Linked DNA regions of Homo sapiens. The protein of the gene in region 5 purifies or fractionates together with the protein of the main gene of each other region. This does not show direct contact. Each region holds a gene or a part of one and is shown on either strand. Other genes may lie near its edges.

Evidence for each region.
Region 1: the proteins of SLCO1B1 (region 5) and MPC2 purify together in Homo sapiens (affinity purification with mass spectrometry; one large-scale study listed by BioGRID and IntAct). This does not show direct contact.
Region 2: the proteins of SLCO1B1 (region 5) and SLC30A9 purify together in Homo sapiens (affinity purification with mass spectrometry; one large-scale study listed by BioGRID and IntAct). This does not show direct contact.
Region 3: the proteins of SLCO1B1 (region 5) and DYM purify together in Homo sapiens (affinity purification with mass spectrometry; one large-scale study listed by BioGRID and IntAct). This does not show direct contact.
Region 4: the proteins of SLCO1B1 (region 5) and DNAAF5 purify together in Homo sapiens (affinity purification with mass spectrometry; one large-scale study listed by BioGRID and IntAct). This does not show direct contact.
Region 6: the proteins of SLCO1B1 (region 5) and MARVELD3 purify together in Homo sapiens (affinity purification with mass spectrometry; one large-scale study listed by BioGRID and IntAct). This does not show direct contact.
Region 7: the proteins of SLCO1B1 (region 5) and COQ8B purify together in Homo sapiens (affinity purification with mass spectrometry; one large-scale study listed by BioGRID and IntAct). This does not show direct contact.

What each region holds. Positions count from the first base shown.
Region 1 is NC_000001.11:167,919,699-167,924,117, reverse strand, and holds part of MPC2 (mitochondrial pyruvate carrier 2), read left to right. Parts: intron 1-3,486; coding exon 3,487-3,571; intron 3,572-4,027; coding exon 4,028-4,139; intron 4,140-4,419. UniProt on the Homo sapiens protein: Mediates the uptake of pyruvate into mitochondria.
Region 2 is NC_000004.12:41,993,001-41,997,419, reverse strand, and holds part of SLC30A9 (proton-coupled zinc antiporter SLC30A9, mitochondrial), read right to left. Parts: intron 1-4,419. UniProt on the Homo sapiens protein: Mitochondrial proton-coupled zinc ion antiporter mediating the export of zinc from the mitochondria and involved in zinc homeostasis, zinc mobilization as well as mitochondrial morphology and health.
Region 3 is NC_000018.10:49,334,907-49,339,325, forward strand, and holds part of DYM (dymeclin), read right to left. Parts: intron 1-4,419. UniProt on the Homo sapiens protein: Necessary for correct organization of Golgi apparatus. Involved in bone development.
Region 4 is NC_000007.14:753,835-758,253, reverse strand, and holds part of DNAAF5 (dynein axonemal assembly factor 5), read right to left. Parts: intron 3,666-4,419; coding exon 3,433-3,665; intron 1,473-3,432; coding exon 1,260-1,472; intron 1-1,259. UniProt on the Homo sapiens protein: Cytoplasmic protein involved in the delivery of the dynein machinery to the motile cilium.
Region 5 is NC_000012.12:21,196,840-21,201,258, reverse strand, and holds part of SLCO1B1 (solute carrier organic anion transporter family member 1B1), read right to left. Parts: intron 4,314-4,419; coding exon 4,071-4,313; intron 752-4,070; coding exon 587-751; intron 1-586. UniProt on the Homo sapiens protein: Mediates the Na(+)-independent uptake of organic anions.
Region 6 is NC_000016.10:71,624,617-71,629,483, reverse strand, and holds the start of MARVELD3 (MARVEL domain-containing protein 3), read right to left. Parts: upstream 3,301-4,867; 5' UTR 3,255-3,300; coding exon 2,788-3,254; intron 118-2,787; coding exon 1-117.
Region 7 is NC_000019.10:40,695,828-40,700,246, forward strand, and holds part of COQ8B (atypical kinase COQ8B, mitochondrial), read right to left. Parts: intron 4,348-4,419; coding exon 4,240-4,347; intron 228-4,239; coding exon 162-227; intron 1-161.

The DNA.
Region 1 (4,419 bases), on a different chromosome or scaffold from region 5:
GAGGAAAGTTACTCTCAAAAAGTAGATGGATTTATTCGAATATAAATATTAGCATTTGGTAAATGAGAGAACCTAGGACTTCTGACTCCAAGCCCAGTGCTTTTACTCTTCCCCAAAGTTTTCTTTCTTAAAGTTCTTACTTAGCTGAAAAGAAACAATTGTGGTGGCTGTTTGTAGCAAATCATTGATTTTATGTTGAAAGGGCCAGTTTGGGTCTATAACTGTGCTTCTCAAAGTGTCATCTCTCTGGACCTGCAGTGGCATCATTTGAGAACTTGTTAGGCCCCATCACAGACCTACTAAATCTGAAACTCTAGATGTGGAGTCCAGTGAGCTCTGTTTTCATAACCTCTTCGGATGATTCTCTAATGCCCTCTAAAGTTTGAAAACCACTGGTCTGTAGGCTTTTTTTTTTTTAATGTGGTAAAATACATATAAAACTTACTATCTGAACCATTTTCAAAGTGTACAGTTCAGTAGCGTTAAGTACATTTACATCATTGTTAACCAATCTCCAGAACCCTTTTTATCTTGTAAAAGCAAGTCTCTGTACCCATAATTCCCCATTCTCCTTCTCCCAGTCCCTGGCAACCACCATTCTACCTTCTGTCTCTATGAATTTCACTACTCTAAGTACCTCATGTAAATGGAATCAAAATGTATTTGTCTTTTTGTAGTTGGCTTATTTCCCCTAGCATAATGTCCACAAGGTACATTAACGTTGTCACATGTGTCACTTTCCTTTCTTTTTAATGCTGAATAGCATTCCATTGTATGTATTTACCACATTTTGTTTATTCTTCTATATGTTGATTGGACAATTGGTTTGCTTCCACATTTTTGCTGTTGTGAATAATGCTACCATGAACATTGATGTACAAGAATCTGTTTAAGTCAATACTTTTAATTCTTCTTAGTATACACCCAGAAGTTGAATTGCTAGATCATATGATAATTCTGCTTAATATTTTTTGTTTTCCTCAGCAACTACATTATTTTACATTTCTACCAGCAATTCATAAGTGTTCTAATTTCTCCACATCCTCACCAACACTTGTTACTTTTGATGGGGGAGCATTTTTGTTTTTGTTTTTATGATAGGCACCTAATGGGTGTTAGATATCTTTGTTTTTATTTGCACTTCCCTAATGATTAGTCATGCTGAACATATACTTATTGTACTTATTGGTCAGTTGTGTATATTCTTTGGAGAAATATTTATTCAAGTCCTTTGCCTGTTTTTTAATTTAATCAAGGTGTTTTTTGTTGTTGTTGAGTGATGGGCTGTTGTAATTCTCTTAAATGTACTTTTAAAATGGTTAGAACAATTCAGAAACTCAGTTGTAAATTCAAGTGGTTGAGAATGTTAGAGTTGGAATTGGCTATGACTCAATCTTATGGCCTTGGGCAAGTTTAGTCTCTTTGTCATTTTGTCTCTTCAACTATAAAGTGACAAGATTAGAATATAAGTCATTCGGGAGCTGTATTTTACAGAGATCTAGGGAGCAGGTTTTTTTTTTCATATCTACATATTGAGAAAAGATCCTAAAACCCCCTATACTAATGGAAGTTACATTACCATTTCCTTCTTCTCTCCCTACCTACACTTAAAATTACATAGTAATAATATATCTTTATAGTGGAATTGATTGCTGAAGTATTCAATCATTAAAAGAGTTTGAGTGATTTCATCTATTCACAATAAATTTAGGGGCCTCTTTGATCTCAAATTTACCACAGTTTAGGAGTTTATTGATTTTATCAATAGCTTTGGGGTTTATTTGAACTGGTTCATTACTGTTGTGAGATATTGACAGCATTATATACTCATAAATGCCTTCTTGACTATCTGTCTCTTTAAGAACATCTATTTTAAGTACATGTTGAAATCATACATAGTCTCCAGATGACAGCATAGCAATAGAAACTTCTGTGTTTTGTTCTCTGGTGGGGAGACTTCTTCTATTAGATACTTACCTTATATACCTCTTACTGTGTTTTACTATCCCAGAGTATTTGATAATTAATCTGTAGAATTCTATACATGACACATAACAGTTGCTTCTGCAAGCCACATATGTTCTATAACATGAAGACTCTCAGACCATATGCCTTCAAACATATAACTGTAGTAGAGTCCTTTGTAACCACTTTAGTTGAAACCACATAACTAATCATAAAGGTCAAAGTGGATAATCCTAAAAACAAAAACCTATGTACCTTAAATATTTTATTTTAACCTAAAGGATATAAATATATATTCATTGACAATCAGTCTTTTTTAAAGCTAAATCTTTTATTTGTGTATGGATTTCTGAGCTCCACATTTTCTATCCTGGATAAATTACACTACAGTGCATCCTATATAATTTCCAGCTTAGTTTTTTTAAAAAAAAACAATTTATTAAATCATGTAAATTACATTAACAAGTAAAACTGGCATAAATAGATTGGGGACAAACATAGTGACTTGGTAAAAATACAGCTCATCTGGTGGGAGCAAAAACGCATGAGTGCAATAGAGACAGTGTTAAAAACACAGAAGAGAAATGGCCATGTATATGCTGATGTTAAAGAAAAATGGCGTAACAGCCAAGGCCGGGCATGGTGGCTCACACCTGTAATCCCAGCACTTTGGGAGGTTGAGGCGGGCGGATCACCTGCGGTCAGGAGTTTGAGACCAGCCTGGCCAACATGGTGAAACCCCGTCTCTATTAAAAATACAAAAATTAGCCAGGCATATTGGCACACGCCTGTAATTCCAGCTACTTGGGGGCTGAGGCATGAGAATTGCTTGAAACTGGGAGGTGGAGGTTGCAGTGAGCCTAGATCGCACCATTGCTCTCTAACCTGGGTGACAGAGTGAGACTGTCTAAAAAAAAAAAAATGATCTAACCAAAAAACTAAAATTATAAGTTTTTCTGATATTTATACTTTTAAAAAATAATTCATTAGAAGCCCAAACCTCAGCATCACACAATATACCCATGTAACAAACCTGCACATATACCCCAAATCTAAAATTTAATTTAATTTAAAAATGATAACATTGGCAGAAAACATCAAAGGAAGAATCTATACAAATGACCTTAACAGCTTTTAGGTATCTTCCATGCTAGTGGTTAGTGGTTCCTGACATATATAAAGAGTATATAAATTCATATGTGAAATAGGTAGACCAAAAAAAACCCAAAATATATATGTACGTGTAATGCATACATATACATCTTATCTATATATGTACTACTGACTTTCAGATATGTGAGACTGCTTAGTGTACCTAACAAAATAAAATTAGTTCAAAAAGCAGTTTTTTAATTCATTGTGCTTTTTTTTTGTTGTAATCTACATTTTCTTAATGAATGGACACTAAAATTATAGCTGCTAACTTACGGAAATCTCAAAAATGTCTTGTGCTTGATTTAAAGTTAAAACTATTACTCCACATTTGTGATACTTTTTTTCTTTCTATGCGTTAATGTGTAGGGGTTGGTGTGTGCTGGATTGGCTGATATGGCCAGACCTGCAGAAAAACTTAGCACAGCTCAATCTGCTGTTTTGATGGCTACAGGTAAATTAAATAAATATCTTCTGTGTTTCTTGTAGAACATAAATGATTTTTGTTTTCTTTTATATCAGTTTATTTAGTGGCTTAGTGTTTGAAATACACCCACACACAAAGGAATTAACAGTATTATGTCTAGGAAGTTATTAAGTTATGGATGGAGGAGTCACAGAAAGAATAAGTATCTGAATGGGCTTTTGCTTTTCAGGTTTTTGCCATGAACATATTTTTATAAGTGGGAAGAAAATTACAGTTAATAGTCACTTTAAAGATTCCTCTTTCATGTAAGAATTGAGTATTTTCTGTGACACTAAGTTACAGAAACATTGAAAATTCAGAGTATAGCATTTCTTTGTCCCTCATCCTACATTATTGTTGTAATTACTTTACTCAATATTAAGTATTCACTGAAGTTATTGAAGCAGTATGTATTCTTTTTAAAGTAACATTTTGTTTCAACAGGGTTTATTTGGTCAAGATACTCACTTGTAATTATTCCAAAAAATTGGAGTCTGTTTGCTGTTAATTTCTTTGTGGGGGCAGCAGGAGCCTCTCAGCTTTTTCGTATTTGGAGGTAAGCCTACCAGAGATATTTTTAAAACTGTTGCAAAAGCTACTTAGATGGCACTAATTTTTTTTTTTTTTGAGACGGGGTCTCGCTCTGTTGCCCAGGCTGGAGATGGCACTAATTTTTTTAAAAGATTCATATATAATGCTAAGACAAGAAGTATCTAAAGTAGAAATTTAACATTTCTAGAAAAGTCTAGGGGTTTACAAATAAGTTAACCAGTTAACTAGTTAACTGACTAAAATCAGTTAAGCAGTATGTTACCTAGTTTTTAGATTTAACTGTG
Region 2 (4,419 bases), on a different chromosome or scaffold from region 5:
AGCTAAATTATCTGGAACTTCATCAAGGTCTTATTAACATCATTATCACAATTTGTAATATAGTCTACCATTAACAGATTGACTATCTCTGGTTTACTTTAATCCTTTCAGCTAGCCAAAACTACAGGAAAATCCTTTTTATCCTTAATCATGTAGCAAGCAAAAGTGTGACCTGGATGGAGTAGCTCAGTCTAGAAGACCACTGCTGATGTAACTTTTCGCCAGAGCAGAGTAAAAAACAGAGAATCTTTTTTTTTTTTGAGTTAGGAAACAATAGGAGATGATGACAACTTCCTAGACTGCATCTTGACATACCTCTCTACTGCCTTGCTTAATTCTATTTTTCTTTTTCATTTTTATTTATTTATTTATTTATTTATTTATTTGAGATGGAGTCCCACTCCGTCATCCAGGCTGGAGTGCAGTGGCGTGATCTCAGCTCACTGCAACCTCTACCTCCCGGGTTCAAGTGATTCTCCTGCCTCAGCCTCCCAAGTAGCTGGGATTACAGGCATGTGCCACCACGCCTGACTAATTTTTGTATTTTTAGCAGAGATGTGGTTTCACCATGTGGGCCAGACTGGTCTTGAACTCCTAACCTGAGGTAATCCACCCTCCTTGGCCTCCCAAAGTGCTGGGACTACAGGCATGAGCCACCGCACCCACCTGTGTTTTTCTGAGACAGGGTGTTGCTCTGTCACCCAGGCTGGGGCAGTGGTGCAATCATGGTTCACTGCAGCCTCAACCTCCCCAGCCTCAGGTGGTTTTCCCATCTCAGACTCCTGAGTAGCTGGGACCGCAGGCGTGTGCCACCCTACCTGGCTACATTTTTTAATTTTTTTTTGTAGAGATGGGATTTTGCCATGTTGCCCAGGCTGGTCTCAAACTCCTGGACTCAAGTTATCTACCTACCTTGGCCTCCCAAATTTTGCTGGGATTACAGGCATGAGCCACTACGACTGGGCCAGAGTGATATTTTAAAACACTCCTCTTTTTCTAAGCCTATGGCTTAAAATACTCAAATTTCGGCCAGGTGCAGTGGCTCACGCCTGTAATGGGACTTTGGGAGGCCAAGGCAGGTGGATCACCTGAGGTCAGGAGTTTGAGACCAGCCTGACCAACATGGAAAAACCCCATCTCTACTAAAAACACAAAAATCAGCCAGGCGTGGTGGCTAACACCTGTAATCCCAGCTACTTGGGAGGCTGAGGCAGGAGAATTGCTTGAACCCAGGAGGTGGAGGGTGCAGTCTGCCGAGATCCACCATTGCATTTCAGCCTGGGAAACAAGAGCAAAACTCCATCTCAAAAAAAACCACAAAAAATAAAAAAACTCAAATTTATTTTCATACCACCCCACCATACCCTAGACACAACAGGTTTCTTTCTGCTCCTTAAAACTATTTGTCTGGGCCAGGCGCAGTGGCTCACACCTAAAATCCCAGCACTTTGGGAGGCCGAGATGGGTGGAATGCTTGAGCTCAGGAGTTTGAGACCAGCCTGGATAACATGGTGAAACCCAGTCTCTAACAAAAATATAAAAATTAGCTGGGCATGGTGGCGCTAGCCTGTGGTCCCAGCTACTCAGAAGGCTGAAGTGGGAGGATCACTGGAGCCCAGGAAGTCAAGGCTGCGGTGAGCTGTGATCCTGTCAGTGCACTCTAGCCTGGGTGACAGAGCAAGACCCTTTCTCAAAAATACATACATATATACATACTAGTCTGATCTTTACAGTTCCTCTTTACTCTTCCCAAATTGCTCTTTCTCCCAGACCTTCACGTGGCTTGCTCATTTTCATCTTTCATGCCTAGGCTCAGTCATTACCTCAGAAAAGCTGGAGTCCTAGGCCATCTTATCGAATGAAATAGCCCATCCTGGCTACTTTCTAGCCCATCATCCTGCCTATCTCTTCTATGGCACTTTAAATATATTTATTTCTGGTGGAAGAAAGGTGGAAACCATCCACCTCGTTCAGCACTACACTATCAGCAACTATAATGCCTGGCATCCAATGCTGAATGATTCTCATTCACAAAAACTCTAGGAGGCACATACTACAGTTAGCTTCATTTTATACTTAAGTACAATAAATTCTATCATGAACTTGATCTGCATAGAATCTTCCTGTCTGCCTGCCTAAATGGTCTTTTTTTTGGTGGGGGGACGGAGTTTTGCTCTTGTTGCCCAGGCTGGAGTGCAATGGCACGATCTCGGCTCACTGCAGCCTCTGCCTCCTGGGTTCAAGCAATTCTCCCACCTCAGCCTCCCAAGTAGCTGGGATTACAGGCGCCTGCCACCATGCCCAGCTAATTTTTTTGTGTTTTTAGTAGAGACAGGTTTTTGCCATGTTGGCCAGGCTGGTCTAGAACTCCTGACCTCAGGTGATCCGCCCACCTTGGCCTCCCAAAGTGCTGGGATTACAGGTGTGAGCCACCACACCCAGCCCTAAATGGTCTTTTATAACTGTCAATGCTCTCTTAATCAGACTAAGAATTTAACTTTTATCCCCAGCAGAGGTCCCTCCTCCTCCCCAACCTCTTTAAACAACTAAGAGCATTGACAGTCTAAATGGTCTTTTTTTTTTTTTTTTTTTGAGACCACATCTGACGGGTTCAAGCAATTCTCCTGCCTCAGCCTCCTGAGTAGCTGTCATTACAGGCGCCCACCACCATGCCTAGCTAATTTTTGTATTTTTAGTAGAGATGAGGTTTCACGATGTTGGCCAGACTGGTCTTTTGTAACTGTCAATACTCTTAGTTATTTAAAGAGGTTGAGGAGGAGGAGGGACCTCTGCTGGGGATAAAAGTTAAATTCTCAGCCTACTTTTCTTATGACAATAAATACTAGCAGATTGGAGACAATAATAACATAGTATGTTTGATTTCTATTTTCTATTTAAAAATTACACTTTTATTAATTTCAGTGTTCATCTAGTATACTTAAGTGTCTTCCCCTCTCAAATTTTTGCCAAATGAGGCAAGGTATAAATACATGAAAAAAAGAAATATGTGCTCTATCCTAACCCAAAGAACTTTTTATAAAAAAGGATATACTTACTACAGAAACTAAGTAACATTTTTATTCTTTAGAAGTATATGTGTACTGTAGATCATTTGTAAAACACAAATAAAAAAATTTTTAGACAAACTCACTGTTAATATCACAGTATATATTTTCACTGTATTTTTCTACAGTTTTTACCTAATAACACAAGAGTATTTTCCATGTCACTATTCTTCTAAATTATAACTTTTTTTTTTCTTTTGAGATGGAGTTTCGCTCGTCGCCCAGGCTGGAGTGCAGTGGCGCAATCTCAGCTCACTGCAACCTCCACCTCCTGGGTTCAAGTGATTCTCCTGCCTCAGTCTCCCAAGTAGCTGGGATTACAGGCGCCCGCCACCATGCCCAGCTAGTTTTTGTATTTTTGGTAGAGATGGGGTTTCACCATGTTGGCCAGGCTGGTCTCGAACTCCTGACCTCAGGTGATCCCCCTACCTCGGCCTCCCAAAGTGTTGGGATTACAGACATGAGCCAACACACCCAGCCCTGAATTATAATTTTTTAAAAAAATGGTTGTATACATCACCAGCCCATAATAAAGGTATCATAATATATTTCAGTTTCCCACTCTCCATAACTATGAACTACCAATTTATTACTATAATAAACTTCTGCAAACATTTTAATATGTATTTTGATTATTTCTTTAAAGTAAATCCTTTTGAGTAAAAACTGTTAGGTCAGAGGGCATAAACCGTTTATGTTTTCAATCAGTAGTTAAGAGAGTTCCTGTTTTCCCACACCCTCAATATGGGGTATTATCATTATGAAAAATTCGGCCAAAATGAAATAGGCAGTGAGAAGTAAAACCCTTTAAAGTCTCTGTTTTTCAGTATGGAACATTTTTGCATTTTTATTGGCCACTTGAACAACTTTATGAACTTTGTATTCAATTCCTTTGTCCATTTTCCTACTGGAATGTATACTGGTTTGTAAAAATTCTTTATAACTTAGATACTAACTCTAACTACACTATCTAATTGAGTAGTCACTGTTTACTGAGCACTTAAAACGTGGTTAGTCTGAACTGTGATGTGCTGAAAGTGTAAAATACTCACTGGGTTTTAAAGACAGTACAAAAAGATGATGTAAAATACTTCAATAATTTTGATATTGATTACATGTTGAAATATTTTGAATATACTTAATAAAATAGTATTAAATTTTATATATTTTATTATTAAAATATATAAATTTCGTTATTAAAATTAATTCTAGGATATATTAAAATTAATTCATCTTTAATTTTACTTTTTTTAATGTGGCTATCAGACAACTCAAAATTACAAACAGGGCTCTCATATTTCTTTTAGACAGTTTCTATTTTGCCTTTAAAGGCATTCCTCATTTTTAAGTATTC
Region 3 (4,419 bases), on a different chromosome or scaffold from region 5:
ACCAGCCTGGCCAACATGGTAAAACCCCATCTCTGCTAAAAATACAAAAAATTAGCTGGGCATGGTGGCGGGCACCTGTAATGCCAGCTACTAGGGAGGCTGAGGCAGGAGAATGGCTTGAACCTGGGAGGCGGAAGTTGCAGTGAGCCAAGATCGTGCCATTGCACTCCAGCCTTGGCGATAAGAGCGAAACTCCATCTCAAAAACAAAAAATAAAGAAAGAAAAAGAAATATATTTAAAAATGACATATAAAAAAAGAAAAACACAAGAGACCCACGCAATTAGCCTTATTACGTGGTTGAATAAAGCTCAGCTCTACTCAGAAATCTGACTTTTAAAGTATTGTAGAACAATCTCTTTCCTGAAATTTCCATAATCACTGTTGTAAAAATTAACCTGTAAAAAGCAATTCTTGGGCATAGTGGCACATGCCTGTAATCCCAGCTACTCAGGAGGCTGAGGCACTAGAACCCAGAAGGTGGAGGTTGCAGTGAGCTGAGATTACACCACTGCACTCCAGCCTGGGCAACAGAGTGAGACTCTTGTCTCAAAAAATAAAAATAAAAAATTTAAAAAATAAAATAAAGCAATTCTTGTATTTGTTCTTCTTTCATGAATTGAATGAAAGACAAACTTGATGTTTCATGTCATGTTATGATTTACTAATGATGATTTGATTTGGGTGCTCAGAACCCCCAAAAATTTTGTATCACAATAATCATTCATTCAAAACATAGCCCACGCCTGTCTGGAATCCATACACAATAGTCTCCTGGCTAGGCTTTTCACCTGGGTCAGAGTTTAAAGCCAAATCCTGACATAACAAATACTTGGCTGTGAGTTAGAGCCTATTTAGATAGGCAGATGGATGACTATGTCCAATACATTTGCAAACGTTTTCTGTCTTTTTTTTTTTTCTTTTTGGAGACAGGGTCTGTGTCTGTCACCTAGGCTGACACCTAGTGGCGCGATCTTGGCTCACTGCAACCTCCACCTCCCAGGCTCAAGTGATCCTCCTGCCTTAGCCTCTCAAGTAGCTGGGACTACAGGCAGACGCCATCATGCCCAGCTAATTTTTGTCTTTTTTACAAAGAGGGGGTTTTACCATGTTGCCCAGGCTGATCTGGAACTCCTGTGCTCAAGTGATCTGCCTGCCTGGGGCTCCCAAACTGCTGGGATTACAGGCATGAGCCATCGTGCCAGACTGCAAATGTATTTTGTCATTGCATCAATAATAAAGAATCAGCTGTGGTGGTTTACAATTTAACATCTTACTGTATGCCTCAGATCTAGAAACAAATTGTTTTACTAAATTGTTTTAGTTTTGCTTAAACCAAAATCTATGACTATTAATAATTACTAGGTCTAATAACCTTAGGGAAAGAATACGTATTTAGAAAAAAGTGTTCTTCTCCTTCAAAATTAATTGGGCCAAACACAATCAGAAGTGAGAGAACAAAAAAAGTGTTAACCTTGGATCATCCTCTCTTACCGTGGAATCCTATAAATGTAGAAGAATGAAGAGTAGAGGGTTTGATGCTGGGAGGTAAGGAAAGCTTCCAGCACATAAGAATACTGAAGCAATACAACATGACAATAAGAGTCACTGCAAGCTAAAAACCCATTTCCCCAAATTCCTAAACAGAACCATGTGTGTCTTCCGTAGGCCCAGAGAAACAAATTATATCAAATTGCTTATCACACAGTATTTTTGCTCATATGATGTTCAACAAATATTGATTAAAAATTTATTCTTACTATCTCTAGACAGGCATTATGCTACATATTGGGGACATATCCATCAACAAATAGACAAGGCTCCTGCCTTTATGAAGCTTACAATTTAGTGGAAAAAAGAAAAATCAAATAATAATCACTCCAAAAAGGACTATAAAGGAAAAAAACAAGTAATAACAGGAGAGGATTACAGGACACTCTGATAGTAACTATGGGATCAAAAGAAAGCGTCTCTTAAAAAGTGGCATTTAAAACCTGGAGTATGAGTGGCAATTACTTACAAATCTTTCTTACTATAATATATGAGACTCTAGCTAGAGAACCTTTCATTTTTGCTGTTGTTTATATTCTCAACTCTAGTATATAATAGGTACTCAATGGATAAATAAATGGAAAGATGGAGGGATCTTTACTGTTTTCATTTTGACTGGAAACTTATTGAATACCTTCCTTAATAGATCCATCAGCAAAGCGTACAAGGCATATATAACTTAGGATAGCAAAGAGGAAGAAGAATGCTGAGGTCAGGTAATATGTATTCATAAGCACAAATGGAATACTCATTGCAACAAAAATGTAAAGGGAATTTCATGAAAGAAGGATCCAGAATGTTGTTGACTGGCTTACAGCTGTCCTCTGTTGATTTTGCCTGACCAACATCCACCTCCTGTTCTTCTGGCAAAAGCAGCCCTTTTGTCCTCCTGAGAACCTCCCTCCCCTCCATACATGTGGATTGGATGGGGCACGACTCTGCCTTCTGGTGATCCACGTTTGGCCAATAAAAATGGTCTTTGTCAAAATCCTTCCCAGCACTTCTGGAACTATCAGAAAAGAGGCACTCTCTCCTTCTGAGATTGTGAGTGCTAAGAACTATGTATGGATAGAGCTGCTACTGGTTTTCTCTGTCGATGGATCCTGCCTGAGAACATAGCCAATCACAGCAGTGACAAGAGATTGAGAACATCACAGCAGTGACAAGAGATTGAGGGGGAAGGAGCAAAAAGGAGAGAAGAAAGAGAGGAGTCCTAGTGAAGAGTCAGCGGAATAATCAAACATAGAAAAAGAAATTACTATGAAATCCGGCAAATCCCATGAAAGAATATGAACTATCTGTATTAGGAACACAGAGATAACAGCAACCAATTCTGCCTGGGTCAGAAGGGAAATTCTTCACAAAGATGATGATATTTGAGCAGACGAAGAACAAGAAGAAGGGGAAGGGCATTAAAGTGAAGAAACCATACAAAGGCAGCCACAAAAAGGTCTGGTAGTTTTGAAGGAAAATAAGAAATTCAATATCGATCAAACAGATTAAAAGAAGGTGGGGGAAAGGGGTGGGAGCAAAGGGACTCGAACTGGGAGTTGAGAAATTAATAAAATGGAAAAAGTATGTATATATTGGAGAAGTTAGATTAAAACAGTTATTAAAAAATCAAGAAACTATTCAAATAAATTTAAAAATCCAACTAGGCCAGATACAAGATCAACTTTGAAAGATAAATAGCATTTCTCCTTAGCAGCACTAACCAACAATAGTAGGTTATCAAAAACAAAACAGCATTTTGCAAGACTGCCAGAATAACTAAAATGTTTGGAATAAAATGTTTTGGTCCTTCATAGGACATCTATGAAGAAAAACATTTAAAAAGGACACAGTGGATGATCTGAACAGAATGACAATACTATGAAGATAATAATTCTACCCAGATTAATACAGAAAGTCAACGAATCACAACCAAAATTCTCACTCGACTTTTTTGAGGAACTGCATAAATTGACTCACTTTTATGAAATAATAAACAAATAGCCAAGTCAACCTTGACAATAAAGAATGAAGAGGGGCACTTTCCCTACTGGATATCAAGCCACTCTATACAGCTGTAGTAAGAAAAACAGCATGGTATTTGTATAAAAAGTAAACAAACCAAAGGACCCCAATTGATAATTCAAAGACAGACCTGTGTATATATGGAAATAATATACAATAAAGATTACGATTACTCCACAAATCAATGAAGAAAAACACATTGTACAGAAGATGGTAATGGGAAACACCTCTTTTATTTCATAATGACAGATCCCTACACCTTACAACATACTCAAGACCTACTACAGAAGACTTAATGACTTAGATGTGAATAAAACTAAAGTTGATAGAAGGAAGAGTACAATAAGTTTGTAACATAAGCACAAGAAAGGACTTATTAAATAAAAGCCTAAGAACACAAACCACAAAGGCAAAAATTACACATTAAATTACATCAGAATTAAAGATTACTGCTCAGCAAATGAATCCCTGGACAAAGTTAACAGGCAGATAATAGACTGAAAGAAGAACACGAAACTAATATCAAGGCTATTACAAATAACTCCTGCCAACAACCAATAAAAAGGCAGGAACTCTGCTAGAAAAAAAAAATCAAAAGATATAAACAGGCAATCTGAAACAAGGTGATATGCCCCTATGCCCTAGAGAATGTAATGTGTTGCCAGGCATGTGGTGATATAAAAACCCTCATGCTCTGCTGATGGGAATACTAACCAGCATAGTCAGTTTTAGAGAACCTATGTCCATTCACACAGACACACAGACACACACGCGTGCATGCGCACGTGCCAAAGAAAAATCCACAGAGATATGTCTGAGAAATATAGTAGGCATCCTCTAAAATGACCCCAAT
Region 4 (4,419 bases), on a different chromosome or scaffold from region 5:
TGCCCTTCTAGGAAAAAATGCTTCTGGCTTGCAAATCTGTATACAGAAATCAAAGGCATCCTCATAACCCCTCGTGGGTGAAGGAAAGTGGAGAACTGACACACATTCGATGATGTGTTAAAAACGGGTTTTGGGAAAAGCTGAAGCATGGCTGAAATGCCATGAGCACGCGGCCCGGGCCCCTCCCCCGCTCCCTTCCTTACCCCAGCTCCGTTTCCTTCCCTCTATGTATTCCAGGAACTGCTTACAGGTTTCTTAAAACAGTTTACAAAAATGACTGTCAACAGCCCCACCTCTCGTTCTGAGGACGGAGAGGGAGCCTGACACAGGACAGGCCGGGCTGAGAGCACAGTGGCAAGTCCCCGTGCCCCAGGCCAGCTTTGGGGCCATAGAAGCCGCCGGAAACGATCGAGCCGGAGCAAGTGCCTCCAGGGGTGAGCTGAGGCCCGCCCTGCATGGCACGGCCGCCTGGTGGGGGCAGCCCTGTGTCCCAGAAATATCTGGGGTGCTGAGTCCAACACACACACTGACAGGGACCACTCACCTTCAAATGAAAGCAAAGCCATCACCTCTTCTTCCATGGAATACAACTATGGATTATTCCAAACAATTGAGCCCAACTACCCAGGCTGTTCCAGCTTCTGAGCTCAAGGATTTGCTGCTCAATTTAAAATTAAACAAATGTCTCTGGCAAATCCTCAGCTGGGCTGTGAGAAGCACAGATCGGAACGCCAGGCAGGGCTGATGGGGAACAGGCTGTCAGTGCCCCCTGAGGACGTGCGATCTGTGCAGGTACCCTGGGGACTGGATGGGATGGTGGACGTGCGACCACGCTCCTCAGGGGTGGGATGACGTGGACCCCACATCTACCCCCAGCAGCATGGGCCAGAGGGTCCCGGCCATGGACGCCTCCTGAGTCATCAAACACGTGAACTGTGGTGTGTGGCCAAGAAAGGGGCAGCAACGAATGTAAACGTGAGCGGCCGCCTGCAGCTGGGGCTGGGGCTGGGGCTGGAGCTCTGCACAGCCCAGGACGAGGCCCCGGAACAAGGGCTATCAGCGAGGGCACTCCGGTTACTGCAGGTGTTTCCGATGGCCCGGCCTGGCGGCACGGGGCGGACCCACAGACACGTCGCTGGGTGCTTCCGACAGCCCAGCCTGGCGGCACAGGGCAACCCACAGACATGTCATTACGATGGCTGACGGCCGGGCAGGGGAGGCTCCTCCTCTCCACTCCCGCATCTCCCAAGTGCTCTTACGTTTTCAGATGCCTGGCAGATGTGGGCCTGTGCCAGCTCTGTGGCGATGGCTGCCAGGTGCGGCTGGAGGGCTTCTCGGGGGCAACCCCGCATGGCGGAGGCCAGCACCAGGAGGCCGGAGGCAGAGGGCGTCTTCTTCAGCGTCGATAAGATCAGCTTCAGAAACACCTCAGGGCTGACAAACGTCCCGACGAGCTCTGCGGATCTGGTACACTGCGAGAAAGAAACATGAGAAAACTCAGAGCCAAACCCGAGGGTCTCAGCCGGGCTCCTGCTCTCGGCGCCGTGGCCTCCCAGACACAGCCGTGCACCAGACAGAGCCCCGTGTTAGGCAGAGTGAGTCCTTGGCACATGCTCAGAGCCCTCAGGAAAGGTACAAGGGTCCGGGTGTGGTCTCAGAACGTCCCTGAGGCCAGCGAGCCGGACACGCCTCCCAGGCAGTGAAGTCTGGCCCAAAGGATGCTGTGTCCCAGCTGTGGGGTTCACCACACACCCCTCATCGGACACCAGTGACCCAACCTTCCCATCACTAAGCTGATCAATACACACCAGCCCCTCTGTACCGTGGAAGCCCACAGTGGATCACACACTCACCAGCCCCTCTGCACCGTGGGATTCCACAGTGGACACCACACACCAGCCCCTCTGCACCGTGGGATTCCACAGCGGATCACACACACACCAGCCCCTCTGCACTGTGGGATTCCACAGCGGATCACACACACACCAGCCCCTCTGCACCATGGGATTCCACAGTGGACACCACACACCAGCCCCTCTGCACCATGGGATTCCACAGCGGATCACACACACACCAGCCCCTCTGCACCGTGGGATTCCACAGCGGATCACACACACACCAGCCCCTCTGCACCATGGGATTCCACAGTGGATCACACACACACCAGCCCCTCTGCACCGTGGGATTCCACAGCGGATCACACATACACCAGCCCCTCTGCACCGTGGGATTTCACACCGGATCACACACACCAGCCCCTCTGCACTGTGGGATTCCACAGTGGATCACACACACACCAGCCCCTCTGCACCGTGGGATTCCACAGCGGATCCCACACACGTCTCTCGTCCTCTCAGCCTCACCCCCGTGTCTCTTGCTCTCCTGTAGGTTCCACAGAGAACTACAGACAATTTTAAATTCACGGTAGTTTTTGAAAAGCAGAAACATGACATGTAAATAACATGGAACCTGGAACATTTACTTTAAATCAGTCACAATGATTTAGATTTTTTTGTTTTATCTGAGACAGCGTCTCATTCCGTCGCCCAGGCTGGAGAGTAGTGGCGCAATCATAGCTCACTGAGGCCTCAAACTCCCGGGCTCAAGCGATCCTCCCACCTCAGCCTCCCGGGAGCTGGAACCACAGGTGCACGCCACTACGCTGGGCTAGTAACAGTGACCTGGACCACTAGAAGTAAAAGCTGCTGGCCAGGCTACCTTGCAATGGAATTTAAGGTTCAAGATGAGGATATTTTCAACTGAAATCTCAAGTCAAAGCTTTAGTTGTTCTCCTGAGCACTAGGAAGCATCCTTGTGAGGTGGGTGTGAAGTCCTCATGGTGGTGACTGTCAGCGCAGGGCGTGGCCCGGCCTAGTGAGGAGGAGAGGCCTGAGCATGGGACTCCCTCGTGCGTACCCAGTGGTGACGAGGCGATAACCAGCAGCCGAGTGTGGACAGGGAGTGAGAAAGAGGACTGCACCAGGGACACCACTCGCAGGACACCCGAAGCTGTGCCATCATCCCCCGTCTGGGTGCTCCCACAGCCCCTGCGAGGCCTGGAAGGGCCCTCAGGACAGTCCAGATGTCAATGCTGAACGCTGGGCATCTCGGTCCTGTGTCAGCAGCCCGGGCCCTGTCTGTCTGGTGCACGGCACGTCTACACAACACGTCTACACAACATGCACCTGGCACTGCACCCCCGAGTGTGCTTGAAAATGAGCATGAAGGGTTCACCCTCAACACGCTGTTACCTACGGGCACAGAAAGGAGATCAGTTGTTCCCAGGGGCTGGGTGTGGGGAGGGCCTGCGGCCCGGGGGTGAGGGGAACGCTGTCTTGGCTACAGTACAGCCTCGGGCCCCGCACACCACAGAGGCGGGATCTTAAGCTCGAGTTACAGCTCCGCGACCACGACTGGAATACGGCCACTTACACTTTGGACCACGGCTGCCTCCTCGTCGGTGCAGGCCTGGAACAGGGTCCGGAGGACGACCTCCAGGTGCTGCGTGGCGTGGTCCTCGGCATGCAGCAGCAGCACTGGGAGCAGCTGTGCCGACTTCACTCGGGTCCCCACCACCCAGTCGGTGATGTCGTGGCACAGGGCAGGGAGGATCTTGGAGAGGTTCCTGAAGACGAGCTCCCGGCAGCCCAGCACAGGGCGGCGCTCTGGAACGAAAAAGGGAAAGAAGAATGAGAAATTCACAAGCAAAACCTCAACAACTCAAGTTACCGCACATCACATTTAAGGGACACCTGTGAGTTTCAACCTCACCATTTCAAAACAAGTCTTGGGGTGGACGCAAAGCTGACAAATGCCCCGTCGTTCAGAACATTCACAGAGGCGGTGCACGGCTGCAGTCCTAGCCCTGTGGAGGCCAAGGCAGGTGGATCACTAGAGCCCAGGAAGTCAAGACCAGCCTGGGCAACATGGCAAAGACCCCATCTCTATAAAAAACAGGAAGATTAGCCAGGTGCCGTGGTGCATGCCTGTGGTCCCAGCTACGCAGGAGTCTGAGGTGGGAGGATTGCGCCACAGCACTCCAGCCTGGGTGACAGAGCGAGACCCTGTCTCAAAAAACAAACATTTAGAGCCACACAGAGATGCAAACAACACACTTGCCACACGTGCTGACGTGTATGATCAGAGAGACACGCCTGCGAAGCCGTCCCCCTATGATCAGAGAGACACACGCCTGCGAAGCCATCGCCATATGATGAGAGACACGCCTGCGAAGCCGTCCCCCTATGATCAGAGAGACACACGCCTGCGAAGCCATCGCCATATGATGAGAGAGACACGCCTGCGAAGCCGTCCCCATATGATCAGAGAGACACACGCCTGCGAAGCCATCGCCATATGATGAGAGAGAGACGCCTGCGAAGCCGTCGCCATATGATCAGAGAGACACGCCTGCGAAGC
Region 5 (4,419 bases):
TATATTTATATTGAATTTCTATAATGTGTCTACAATACTAGAGTTGTGGGAAGAATAATACAAGGAAACTTTCCTTAATAAGCACATCTAAATGTGCCATTGAAAATAGATATTGTAGCAAAAAATACTCTGTAAAATATATTTGTTTTGAATTATGCATATTTTGATGTATTTAAATCGATACTCTTTTTGGAACTATTAGTGTCATATTTTTGTAAGTAACTGAGTCTTGATTTCAAAGTCCATAAATTATAGAATTATAATGATTATAATTACAAAAGGGTTTGTCTCAGATCTTAGCACTAAATTATAAGATCCAATTATACAGATACTACCTCTAAATTGTCCATTTATTTGCAACATTTTTTTCAGGAACTCATCTAAAATAAGATGCAACTTCAAATGCAGAGCAATAGTGACATCACAAGTTTTATATGTTTAATAACATTTGAGAAAGAATACAAGAAAATTATACTTATCCTGTATTACTAAAATACAAAATCACTTTCACAATAAAATACCACTTGGAATACAGTATTTAGTATTATTTCACTTATTAAGCACACAAGTAAAAAATATGTCTTACCCAATAAGATGTTAGCCTTAGATGAAGGCTGACCATACTGTTGCTCTACGTATTTGAAGACATAAGTAAAAGCACCAATATAGCTGCTTACTTGTAACAACGTCAAAAGCACAAACATAACATACAGGGGATTAGTAAGGATGCTTTTAAAAGACTGGAAAAAACCTGTAAAATTGTAAAAATAAAGAAAATATTTGAATGCAACTTAAATATACATTTATATCTAAAATTTGTGAACGTAAGTCATGTAAGATTTAAAATTCTATAAACACATAACACAAAGAGTGAGAATAGCCTGCAATACCACAGGCTGTTCACAGCTTTTAAATATATTCTTTCAATATTTTCCATACGAATATTAATATTTATTAGTTTAGTTTATTTTACCCTCAAATAGGGTCATACGTAAGTGCTGTTTTGTAACTTGCTTTCTTCACTTAATATTTGGTTATCCTGGGTACTTTACAATACTATTGCAAACATATTAATTCACTTATTCATTCATTCAGCAAATGTTAGGTTTTCAACTGGGTACCAGACAATATGCTAATTGTTCAAAAAACAAAAGTGAAGGCCGGGCACAGTGGCTCACTCCTGTAATCCTAGCACTTTGGGAGGCCGAGGCAGATGGATCACCTGGGGTCAGGAATTCGAGACCAGCCTGGCCAACATGGTGAAACCCCAACTCTACTAAAAATACAAACATTGGCCAGCACGATGGCACACACCTGTAATCTTAGCTACTTGGGAGGCTGAGGCAGGAGAATTGCTTGAATTAGGGAGGCGAAGGTTGCAGTGAGCTGAGATGGTGACACTGCACTCCAGCCTAGGCAATAGAGCAACAAGACTCCATCTCAAACAAACAAACAAACAAACAAACAAAAAAACCCAAAAACAAACAAACAAAAAGTGAATAAGACATATGATGTTTCTTATTTATTAGTACTTAATGATATAAGTATTATATTAAAAATATAACTATTAAATGGAAATGTAAAGACAGCATAATTCAAAACTCACAGAAATAAGACCATTGAGGTTCAAAATTCTTAAAGATTAATTTAGTATGAGGACTCAGACCTCCTGTTTCTCTAGTATACAGCTCTTCTACCATAACATACTTTCTCAGTAAATTTGGCAATATTATTAACCCTCTGTCTTAAGATACAAGGAAAGCAGCCAGGGGATAATATTGTGTCCCAAGTAGTATTATAATAGTAATAATACAACCACCTATCCCTACAAACAGCTGTGGTAACAAACTTCTAACTTCTGTTCATGGTAGAAATTATGTCATTTGGATCTGTGATCACCAGGTCAACTAGCTGTAATAGGACTTAAAAGTAGAAGGAACTACTTAGAAAAACAGTAGGAAGTATCAGAGTTCATCAAGACAGAGCCAAGATATGGTTACTGAGAGTTGGATGATACGGACTTTGAAATATTTTTCTCTATTTAAATCTCTAAAGATTTTCATTAGATATGGTCAGAACTAAGACATCCATTTAATGTCAGCTACGAAACAGTTGCATCTGCTTGAAATAAGGAGTAGAAGGAGTTAGAGAAAAGAAACAGAAAAGAAAAAAAGAAGAGATAAGAAAATGTATAGTGGGAATAAACAACATTTAAAATTCTTGGGCAAAAGTGCCACATTTCTCTCCACAGGTCTCCCCAGTCATGAAAAACCATCCCTGATTTGTAAGTATTATAAGTGAGTTGTGGCCTTTCTTCAACAGAAATGGAGTATATACATTCACACAAGCGTTGCATTTTTGAGGATGAGAAATTCAATGTCATCCAGTGTAAACTTCTGTATAGTCATGATCTACTATATATCATTAATAAGTGGATCAATAAACAACTTAAGTGGCATTAAACTAAGTACCTTAGGAAGCAATTTCCTCCACTTTTGAAAAGTTCTCATTGTTTACACACTGTTTTTGTAATGAACTGAAATCATCTTTTCATTCTAATCAGTTTTAGTTCTATTCAAGAGCATATGGAATAAATTCAATATTTTTTCTGACTATATATTCTTATTTTATCCATTCCTAATAGATACATACTTAAGATCCTCTTTCTTAGGGTCACACCTACAAAAACTGTTCATAATAGAGATTATGTCTACAATTGTCCTATTTTTACAACTTCATTATCCTCTCTGTTCTGTTTGGATCACAGTCAACCCCGCTCCTTATAGGTTTAGACAATCTACTATTTTTTAAAGATTTGATTTGGTACAGTAGAAACATCATATACAAAATGAAAATTATTGGTATAGTACTTTTAGTGTGAATGTTAAATTTTAAAAACATAAATGTTTAACATCTGATTCTTAGGAAAACAAACTTCTACTTGTAGTATATCCCAATTTCCATGGTAATAAATCATGGTAATTCTCTTGCCATGAACAATTTCAACCTACCAATGTAGCTGAAACTTAACAGTCCTCTGCTATGAGCCAATATAAAGAGTACCAGAACACCACTGCTCTTGGGTTAGTGTGATAGAAAGGAGAAAATAGCAATAAAGTAATAAGTAAAAGACCTGATGAAAGGAAGAACCTAGGCTACACTGGAGAATTTGTCATCTTACTTTAAAGAAAACTTGAAAAAGATGCTGAGGGTTTAAGTGTTGCATTGCTTTGGCTATTTCACCATTTCTCCCAAATCTGAAAACTGCTGTCAACACCTCACTGATTCACATATCTTGCTCTGGCTACTGCCAAGTCATTCTCTTTGTTTATTGACTCTCAATGGTTCTCCATTAGTCCCAGGGTTTATATTCAAAAGAGGAGGCACTGTCAAATGCTGATGCATCCTAATTTACATTACTTAGTCTAATTATCTTAACTACCACCTTTGCTTCCACTTTATTTTGAATATTTAGATAAGATAGATAGATAGATAATTACCAAAATAAATATTACTCTAATTACATAGGGAGAAACTTCTCCCGACTTCCTTCTCCTTAATCCATCTCTACACCTGATAATAGTTAAGTTTAATTTCACCATAATACTTAAGGCACTATATTGCTATTGTCTATATATTTCTCAGCATCACCCACTAGGTTCTTGAAAAATAGAGGTAATGTTTTATTACCAGGGCATAGTACAGTTCCTGGTACTACTTGTTGAATAAATGAAGGAATGAAATATTATAATTCTTTGAACTCTCCCAGTTTAGACCATATAATACTAAAATTAATATTTACTATTTGGCTCATAAAAAATGGATGTTTGTAAACTTTTGTTGGTTTCTCCCTGCTAAAAAGTACAAACCTAATTCTCTTCCACTTGTTATGTGCTCAAGACATATATGTTAACTTTAATAGGAGTTTTAGAAAAATAATTTATCTAAATTTAGTGCAAAAGAAAGCCAACTCCAGATGAGTTGGGTATGCTTTATTATTTTGGAATACTCATTCTTCCTTTTCATTGAGATTAACAACTCCAAATTGACAATGAATGTTAAATACTTACCAGTCACATTTTTGGTAATATTTTTTCCTTGATTGGTCAAATTAGCTGTTTGATCCTTTTCATCATTTGTTTCCAGCACATGCAAAGACAGTGAAGCTTTTCTTTCTTTTTGTGGTTTATTTGGAGTTTGGGGCAAGAAAAAGAATGGTATGGAAGAAATAATGGAGAATAGTCCAGACACAAGGAAATTAAGCCACCAAGCTCCAACCCATCGAGAATCAGTAGGAGTTATCCTGATAGTGCCTAGAATAAATAATTATAGAAGCCAGTCAAAAATCATTTTGAAATACAATAGGTTCAGGGAAATAATGGTATGAAGAAAGTAAACTACATTTCCTCAATTCCAAGA
Region 6 (4,867 bases), on a different chromosome or scaffold from region 5:
CACAAGTATTTGCATTTGTGGCATTCCAGGAGTCCTTCCGCCTCTGACTGGTAATATTCCACCTCCTCTCGTCCAGGCCTGGGGGTCGAGGGCAGATATCTCTCCGAAGGGGGTTCACTATAACCAAAAAGCATACATGGTCATTAGGGGGTGTCTCATTCAATAGCGTTCAGGATTAGAACTCTTGACTCCTCGTGCTGGGCCCAAATATTAGCAGAACAGAAATAGAATTTGTCCCGGTATTTTAAACTCCAGAGAATTCTCTGGTTTAGTGGCCCCACGGGACATCCAAATACTTGGCCCAGCTCCACTAACCACGTGACAGATGCTGTGATTGGTACCGCTGATGGTTTGTCTGCCCCTGGGAGCTGTCTCACCAGGTAGCTGCGAGCTGCCTTCCTGTGAGTGCAAGTTCTCAGTTCAGCATGCACCAGGCCTCTTCAAAACCAGTTTGCATTCACATGACTCTGATGCCCAGGCAGGCATTCTCTTCCTCCCTTTGTTACTTTGGAAAGTGTTGAGTCAGCAATAACTCTCCAGGAGCATGGGAGCTGCAGACCACGGATTTTGACATCATCACATCATTTCCTCCTCTGGCAGCCCTAGCATTTTCTGTCCCTTCTCTCCTTGCTTTATGCAGCACATCCTGGGCTTTGTCCAAGATTCAACAGGGGGCTGCATTCTACTTGCCAGGCTCCCACAGTCTTTCTAGAACATCATGTCTCTCTTAGGTTTGAAATTTTTCAAACTTTTAGCATGCACAGGAGGCCCCTGTTCATCTCTCTACACTCACAACCTCATGCTCGCAGACCCAGCCATACTGAACTACCCCCTTCCCCTCAAAAGATGACTGCTTTTCCATGCCTCTGGGTTACTACAGAAGCTATTCTTCTCCTTGGGACACCTTTCCTCTTCCTCCTCAGTCTTCCTTTTTTTTTTTTTGTTTTGAGATGGAGTCTCACTCTGTCACCCAGGCTGGAGTGCAGTGTCGAGATCTCAGCTCACTGCAACCTCCGCCTCCCAGGTTCAAGCAGTCCTCCCACCTCAGCCTCCCGAGTAGCTGAGATTACAGGCGTGCGCCACCGCGCTCTGCTAATTTTTTTGTATGTTTAGTAGAGATGGGGTTTCGCAGTGTTGGCCAGGCTGGTCTCGAACTCCTTACCTCCAATGATCTGCCCGCTTCGGCCTCCCAAAGTTCTGGGATTACAGGTGTGAGCCACCGCGTCCGGCTCGGACAGTGGTTTTTAAAGAAACCTAAAAATGCAGCTCTGAATTCTCCCAGGTCCTGCAGTTGCAAGTGCAATGGGCTTTAGTCAGGGAAACAACAGCTGTTTCCCTGGGCGAAGCTTTGACTGTATCTGGGCGCACCCTTTGTTATGCTAGTTAGTTTTAGATAATGTAACATAAACTCAGGATAGGAGCTCTCCCGCTGTGTGGACATAGCAGGGAGACAGACTGGACTCAGCCTCCAAGTCCCTGGGAGAGGGGAGCCTGACTCCTCCCTAGAGGAGAGGCCAGGTGTCAAAAACCAGAAGCAGTCGTCACCTCGGACCTGTCTCCTGTTGGAGCTGGCAGGGGAGATATCCCATCTGCTCACAGTTCACCGTGTGGGGCACATTATCTGGGTATTCAATGGATGGAAAAAACACCAGGTCCCTAGGAGGCGGTGTGGGGACCAGGTCCCCTCTTGTCTTCCCTTCCCCCCCCACCCTCCCCTAGCTCACAGAGTCTTCCAGTACACCCTGAACCTTTCTCCTTACAAGGGGCCTATGGGAATTCTGTGCAAGGCAGAGATGGCAAAGTTTTTTCATTAGGAGGGTGCGGTCTCAAGCAGCCGTGGGATTCGAATGACGCTGCCTAGAGAGACCTCACTGGCAAAAGGGAAAACAAACCTGTACCCTTCAGTGGGAGAATTTTACGTAGACTTTGTTCTTTGGTTAAAAATGTAGCGTCTCCCATCTGACTTTTTTTTTTTTTTTTGAGACGGAGTCTCGCTTTGTCGCCCAGGCTGGAGTGCAGTGGTGCGATCTCGGCTCACTGCAACCTCCGCCTCCCGGGTTCAAGCGATTCTCCCTCCTCAGCCTCCCAAGTAGCTGGGATTACAGGCATCTGCCATCACGCCTGGCTAAGTTTTTGTATTTTTAGTAAAGACGGGGTTTCACCATGTTGGCCAGGCTGGTCTCGAACTCCTGGCCTCAGGTGATCCGCCCGCCTCGGCCTCCCAAAGTGTTGGGATTACAGGCATGAGCCACCGCGCCGGCCCACCTGTTTCTGAAGGCACCTATTCCTGGGAGGGGTAACACATTAAACTATTAACTCTTCATCGGGCTTCCCAAGTGGGCGGCCCGGCCACAAGGAAGGGGACTTTGGAGTCGGGAAGGGCTGGCTCTGGAACACGGGACAAGGGTCTGAACCCCAAGGCGCAGTCCTGTGACCATGCGGGCCGGGCCGGGGAGGAGCCTGGGGTGAACCCCACCCGCCTGGTCTCCTCCCACCCCTCCCTCTCGGGTCCCGGGGCCTCTCTTTCTCTTCTCCAGGTCCTCCAGCCCAGCCACTGCTCACAGGGGTGGTTTTTGCTTTGTTAGTTGGGTTCAGGCCACGAGAAGGGGGAACCCTAAAGTTTTCCTTCCCTGCCAGGTCGCCTCTGAGAGCGCAGAAGGGAGAAACGGCATTTGTTCATTTAAACGGGCTCCTAGGACGAGAACCCGGGGACGCCAGGGCCTCGCGGGCCGGCCTGGGCCACAGGTGTCCCCGGCGCGGAGGTCGCAGCGCCCCGGCCCCTCTCACCTTTCGGGTCTGCGGCGCCCGGGGTCTCCCTTCCTCTGCGGCTGCGGCGGCTCCGGGGCTTCCCAGGGCGCGGGCCCAGGAGGCGCGGCTGCGTCCCAGGTCAGTCCCCGGGCTCCGTCCCGCGTCCGGCTTTGGCGCGGTTTTTCCCAAACTCCGTGTTCACCTGCGCGAGGGCCCGCGTCCCTGTGTGTGTCCCGGCGGGGGCCTCGGTCCGGGTCTCTTTCCCTCTCTCTCTCCCTCTCCCGGTCCCGGTTCCGGTCGCGGTTCCCGTCCCTCTCCTGGTCTCTCTCCGGGTCCCGGTCCCCGTCCCTTCGCCGGTTCCCGTCGCTGCTTCGCTTCCTGCGCGGGTCCCCGGGTCGGTCCCGCGGTCGATCGTGGGTGCGGCCTTGGTCTGGGTGGGGGCGCCGTCCCGGGTCCCGCTCTCTCGGCCGGGCCCGGGGCTCGCGAGCCCCCGACGGATCTTCCATGGCCGGGTTCCGTGTCCCCGCCCGGGAGCGACCTGAGGGCAACAACCAACAAGTTTCTTGGGCAGGTGGCCAAGCCCGGGGGCGGGGCGGGCACTCACCTGTGCGCATGCGCGCTAGTCCGGGAGCTCACCTGAGAACGGGCGCCCTCAGGGGGCGGCCTGAGCGCGTCTGGGGCCCGGGCGGGAGGGGTGCCTGTGTGCTGGGTGGGGGCTGGGGTGCTGCTGCTGGAAACCCGGGCGGGGCGACCCACAGCCGCACCTTTCTGCCCCGAAGTAACCCCTTGGTGACCCCACGAGGTGGGCGGCCTAAGGGAGCCAACTGTGGCCACCTCCCCTGGCTCAACTTACACTGCAACTTGGATTTACCTTCCCAGAGGTACCCATCCTCTCACTCACTCAGCCAGACACTCATTCATTCACCCAATCACCCACTACCCGCTCATCCATTCACCCACCCATCCACCCACTCACCCACCCATCCACCCACTCACCCACCCATCCACCATCCATCCACCCATCCACCCACTCACCCACCCGTCCAACCATCCACCCATTCAACCACTCACCCATCCATACACCCGTCTATCCACCTATCCACCTACTCACCTACCCATCTAACCATCCACCCATCCATCCATCTATCCACCCACTCACCCACCCATCCACCACCCATCTACCCGCCCACTCACCTGCCCATCCGCCCACCCACCCACCCTCCATCCATCCATCCACCCATCCACCCACTCACCCACCCATCCACCCACCCATCTACCATCCGCCCACTCACCCACTCACCTGCCCATCCATCCACCCACTCACCTAACCATCCACTCTCACCCACCCATCCACCATCCATCCACCCACCCATTCACTCATCCACCCATCCACCCACCCACTCACCCACCCATCTACCAACTCACCCATCCATCCACCCATTCATCCACCCACTCACCCATCCAGCCACCCACCCACGCATCCACCCATCCACCATTCATCCACTCACCCATTCATCCATCCATCTGGCCACTAACCTACCCACACATCCACCCAGTCACCCACCTTCCACTTCTCCCTCCACCCATCCACTGTCCCTCTTTCTCCCTTCTCCTGTTTTCCTTATAACACCTATGTTGTAAGGGGCTTGCAGCCAGTTCATCTATCACAATAGTCCTGGGCTTACAAATAGCCCTGTTTTTTAAAATGGGGACTTACACAAAATTGGCAGCTTTTAATTCTGCCAAGTAAGGATATTACAAAATATATACAATTGCCATCTGGTAATTAATTCTTTCAGCAAATATGTATGAGCACCTGCTTTAGCAGGTACTGGAGATATAGTGGAAAATTTGCTTGCAGGGTGATTGCATTCTAGTGTGTCAGGAAAAGGGAAAACAGGTAGTAAACAAAGAAGACAGTGTCTAAAGTTTAATGGGAAGGGCAGGTTTCCTCATATAGACCTGGGAAGATGTCGTTTGAATTGAGTTCTGGATGACAAGAAGGCTGAGAAAATGTCCCAGAAAGAGAGAAGGTTGAGGAACGCGGGAGCTGGACAAGGAGGTCCCTGGGAGTAGAGTTGGTGGGCATGAATTGAGGCTGGAGAAGTGGACCAGGCAG
Region 7 (4,419 bases), on a different chromosome or scaffold from region 5:
CTGACATATTAAGTGCTTGGTGTGTGCTAGTTGCTACGAGTATTACTATTATTTATTATTTCTTAATTCCAGAAACTGCATTTCGCCTTCTTACTCCTCTGCCTCAGTATATGGCTTGAGCCTCAGCCTTTCAGAGGCCCTGGGGTCTGGGGGAGACTCACCTCGATGTAATGGTCTGTGAACTCTGTCCCAAACTCCCGGCTTGCACCAAAGTCCAGCAGGGTCACCTGGAAGCAAGGAATGGTGAAAGGAATGCTGGGATCCCATTCACACCCTCACTGTCTATTGGGGCAGCCAGGATCTGTCTCCCTCCCCATGACCCTGCCTGCTCCTGCCAGAGTCCCTGCCTGGCTGCCTCACTGGGCTCCTGGCCTCATCTCCCGTTTCCAACCGACCCCCTAGCTGAAGGCTTTTTTTTCTTTTAGTTCTAATTGTTTATGCAATAACAAATTTTAGACCCAGAAAAAAAATCCAGAGAATAATAAAAGATATAGAAAAGTAAAATGAATACTCACAAATCCTGCCACCCAGCCTAAAATATAAAATACTCCCCATCCGGCCACACGTGGTGGCTCACACCTCTAACCCTAGCACTTTGGGAGGCCAAGGTGGGTGGATCATGAGGTCAGGAGTTTGAGACCAGCCTGGCCATCATGGTGAAATCCCGTCTCTACTAAAAATACAAAAATTAGCCAGGTGCGGTGGTGCGTGCCTGTAATCCCAGCTACTTGGGAGGCTGAGGCAGGAGAATGGCTTGAACCTGGGAGGTGGAGGTTGCAGTGAGCCGAGATTGTGCTATTGTACTCCAGCCTGGGCAACAGAGTGAGACTCCGTCTCAAAAAAAAAAAAAAATACTCCCCATCCACGTGGAGCCTCCTGTGTATCCCGCCCTGATCACACCTCCCCCAGGTCCCCAGGGTCACCTCTTTCCTACAATCATTATTAAATTATTTCCTGAAATTCTCATTTATGCATTTCTATATTTTCTATGTATGTGTACAGCTGTAAACAATCTAGAGTAATGGTGTGCATATTTTCAAACTTCACAGAAGTGGTATTTACTGTCGTTCTCCTGCAACTTGTGCTTTTTGCCCAGCATGGTTTTGCGATTTATCCCTGTTGCCATGTGTCGCTCCAGCTCAGTCACTCATTTCACACTGCTGTGTAAGGACTTCGTTGCGTGAATCTATCACAGTGCATTTATCTGGCTGAGGAATACTGTGGTTGTTTCTGATTTTTTTTCCTTCTTTTTAAATATGTTTATTAGTTATAAACTCTGTTCTGACATTTTTTTTTTTTTTTGAGACAGGGTCTTGATCTGTTGCCCAGGCTGGAGTGCAGTGGCACGACCATGGCTTACTACAGCCTCAAACTCCCACGCTCAAGTGATCCTCCCGCCTCAGCCTCCTGGGTAGCTGGGACCACAGGTGCACCCCACCACACCTGGCTAAGTTTGAAACATTTTTTGTAGAGATAGGGTTTCACTACGTTGCCCAGACTGGTCTCGAACTACTGGGCTCCAGTGATCCTCCCACCTCAGCCTCCCAAAGTGCAGAGATTACATTAGTGAGTCATCTCACCTGGCCTGTTTCTAATTTTTGTGCTCAATGAACACCTGTAAGAATGTTTCTAGGGCAGTAGAGTTTGAACTGACCACAACCCACAGTAAGAAATTGTTTCTACTGGTGGCTGGGCGTGATGGCTCACACCTGTAATCCCAGCATTTTGGGAGGCTGAGGGGGGCGGATCACCTGAGGTCAGGAGTTCAAGATCAGACTGGCCAACATGGTGAAACCCCACCTATACTAAAAATACAAAATTAGCTGGGTGTGGTGGCGCACGCCTGTAGTCCCAGCTAGTTGGGAGGCTGAGGCAGGAGAATCACTTGAACCCAGGAGGTGGAGGTTGCAGTGAGTCGAGATTGTGCCACTGCACTCCAGCCTCCATTCTCAACAAGAGCAAAACTCTATCTCTAAACAAACAAATAAATAAAATTATATATATATATATATATATATATATATAGAGAGAGAGAGAGAGAGAGAGAGAGTTTCTACTGGGCGTTCATGCAAATGCACACAAAAACGTCAAACAAAAGTGTCCCAAGGCCAGGCGCAATGGCTCATGGCTGTAATCCCAGCACTTCGGGAGGCCAAGGCAGGCGGATCACCTGAGGTCAGGAGTTCGAGACCAGCCTGGCCAACATGGTGAAACCCCATCTCTACTAAAAATACAAAAATTAGCTGGGCGTGGTGGCAGGCACCTGTAATCCCAGCTACTTGGGAGGCTGAGGCAGGAGAATTGCTTGAACCTGGGAGGCGGAGGGTGCAGTGAGCCGAGATCACACCATTGCACTCCAGCCTGGGTGACAAGAGCGAGACTTCATCTCGGGGAAAAAAAAGAAAAGTGTCCCAAAATAATATGGATCCCTCCCATCTGTGACATACTGACATCATCTATTCCATAAAAAAAAAAAAAGTGCTGGTGGATCATGAGGTCAGGAGTTCAAGACTAGCCTGGCCAAAATGGTGAAACCTCATCTCTACTAAAGATACAAAAAATTAGCCAGGTGTGGTGGCGGGCACCTGTAATCCCAGCTACTTGGGAGGCTGAGGTGGGAGAATTTCTCGAACCCCAGAGGCAGAGGCTTCAGTGAGCTGAGATCGTGCCATTGCACTCCAGCCTGGGCAACAAGAGCAAAACTCTGTCTCAAAAAAAAAAAAAAGTCCTGTTGGAAACCAATAAATTGATGTCAGGACTCCTATCACTTGGAGTTGGGTAAACATATCCCTGGGGTATGAACCTAGGAGGGGACACAGGGTGTATGCACATTGTGGAGAAAGAAGAGGCAAGGGACTAGGGCTGGAGACTCCGTGGGGCCACAGGATGCTCAGCAAAGGGTTCAGACTTGATTCTGAGGGGGCTGTGAAGCTGTAGGAGGGATATCTTGACCAGATTTGTGCTTTAGAAAGACCCCTCTGGGGACAAAATGGGGATAGACCACTTTGGAAAACAGTTGGCAACCCCTGATAAAGGTAATGATGTATCCACCAACACTCAAGTCTGCAGGTCCAAACCTTCACTACAGGTCTTTGTACACCCCCTGCCCTCTGCTGGGAACACTCTGCTCTCTGGATGGTTGTCTCCTTTTCCCCTGTCCCATCTCAGCCTTTTTTTTTTTTTTAAATAGAGCCCAGGCTGGTTTTAAATTCCTGGCCTCAAGGGATCCTCCTGCCTCAGCATCCCAAAGTGCTGGAATTACAGGCATGAGCCACCATGCTCAGCCTCTGGTCTCAGCTTTTTTTTTTTTTCTTTGGTGAGACAGAGTCTCGCCCTGTCACCCAGGTTGGAGTGCAGTGGCATGATCTTGGTTCGCTGCAGCCTCGACCTCCTGGGCTCAAGCCATCCTCCCACCTCAGCCTCTCAGTGGCCTCAGCTTTAATGGCACTTGCTTTAAGAAGCCTCCCTTAATCCCTGCTCACCCCACAGTGAGTCAGGCACTTTCCCTGGGATCCCATAACTTCCTGTGCCTCCCCCAACTCCAGCCCCCACCCCTCTGCCTGTGCCTCCCCCATCCCGGTCCTGACCCATCTGGCCTGTGCTCCTCATTGTGGTTGGTACGAACCACTCTAGGTCATCGCTGTGTGGTGCCAGGTCCCCCCACTGGACTGGGCACTCTGAGAAGGCAAGGGTCAGGGATGTCTTTTTATTGCTGTCAAGAGGCAAGGGCAGGTGATGGTGTGTTCTGTATGGATGACGAGTGTGGTAGTGATGGCTAACTGCCTTCCAAAAGCTGTACTTCCCCTCTGTGCTGTCACATTGCCACCAGGAACCACTGCCTAGCCAGGGACTCCATTTTCCAGCATGCCTTGCACCTAGGCAGGCTATGTCACTAGCTCTCACTGATGGAATGGCAACGGAAGTGCTATGTCCATTGCCCCAGGATGAGCTTAGTGTATTTAGCCTGGGCATTACTTTTTCCACTTCTGGCCAAAGCAGTTAGGCAGGGGGCTACCCTCAACCTCTCTTACCCTTTCCTTGGGAAGCAGAGCGTTGCAAGGCCCCAGGGATGGCAAAACCACAAAAGGGAAGGAGCTGGGTCCCTGAATCCCACTTGGAAAAGGGCCACCCCTGCCTATTGTGGGGGTAATCAACTGCTATTTTGTTGAGCTACCGAAATATCAAGGAATATTTGTTACAACAGCAAATGTACCCAGACACACATCACTAGGAACCAACCTGGTGGCTGGAGGCATCATACAGGAAGTTGGCCCAGTTGGGGTCAGTCTGCATGAATCGGAACTCAAACAGCTCCCGCAGACACAGCGTCAGGAGCTGGAAGCAAATCTGGGGTGGGGAGAATTAACAGGCATCTCAGTGTGATCTCCCTTGTGGTGCCACTGCTGGCCTGGAGAGAGA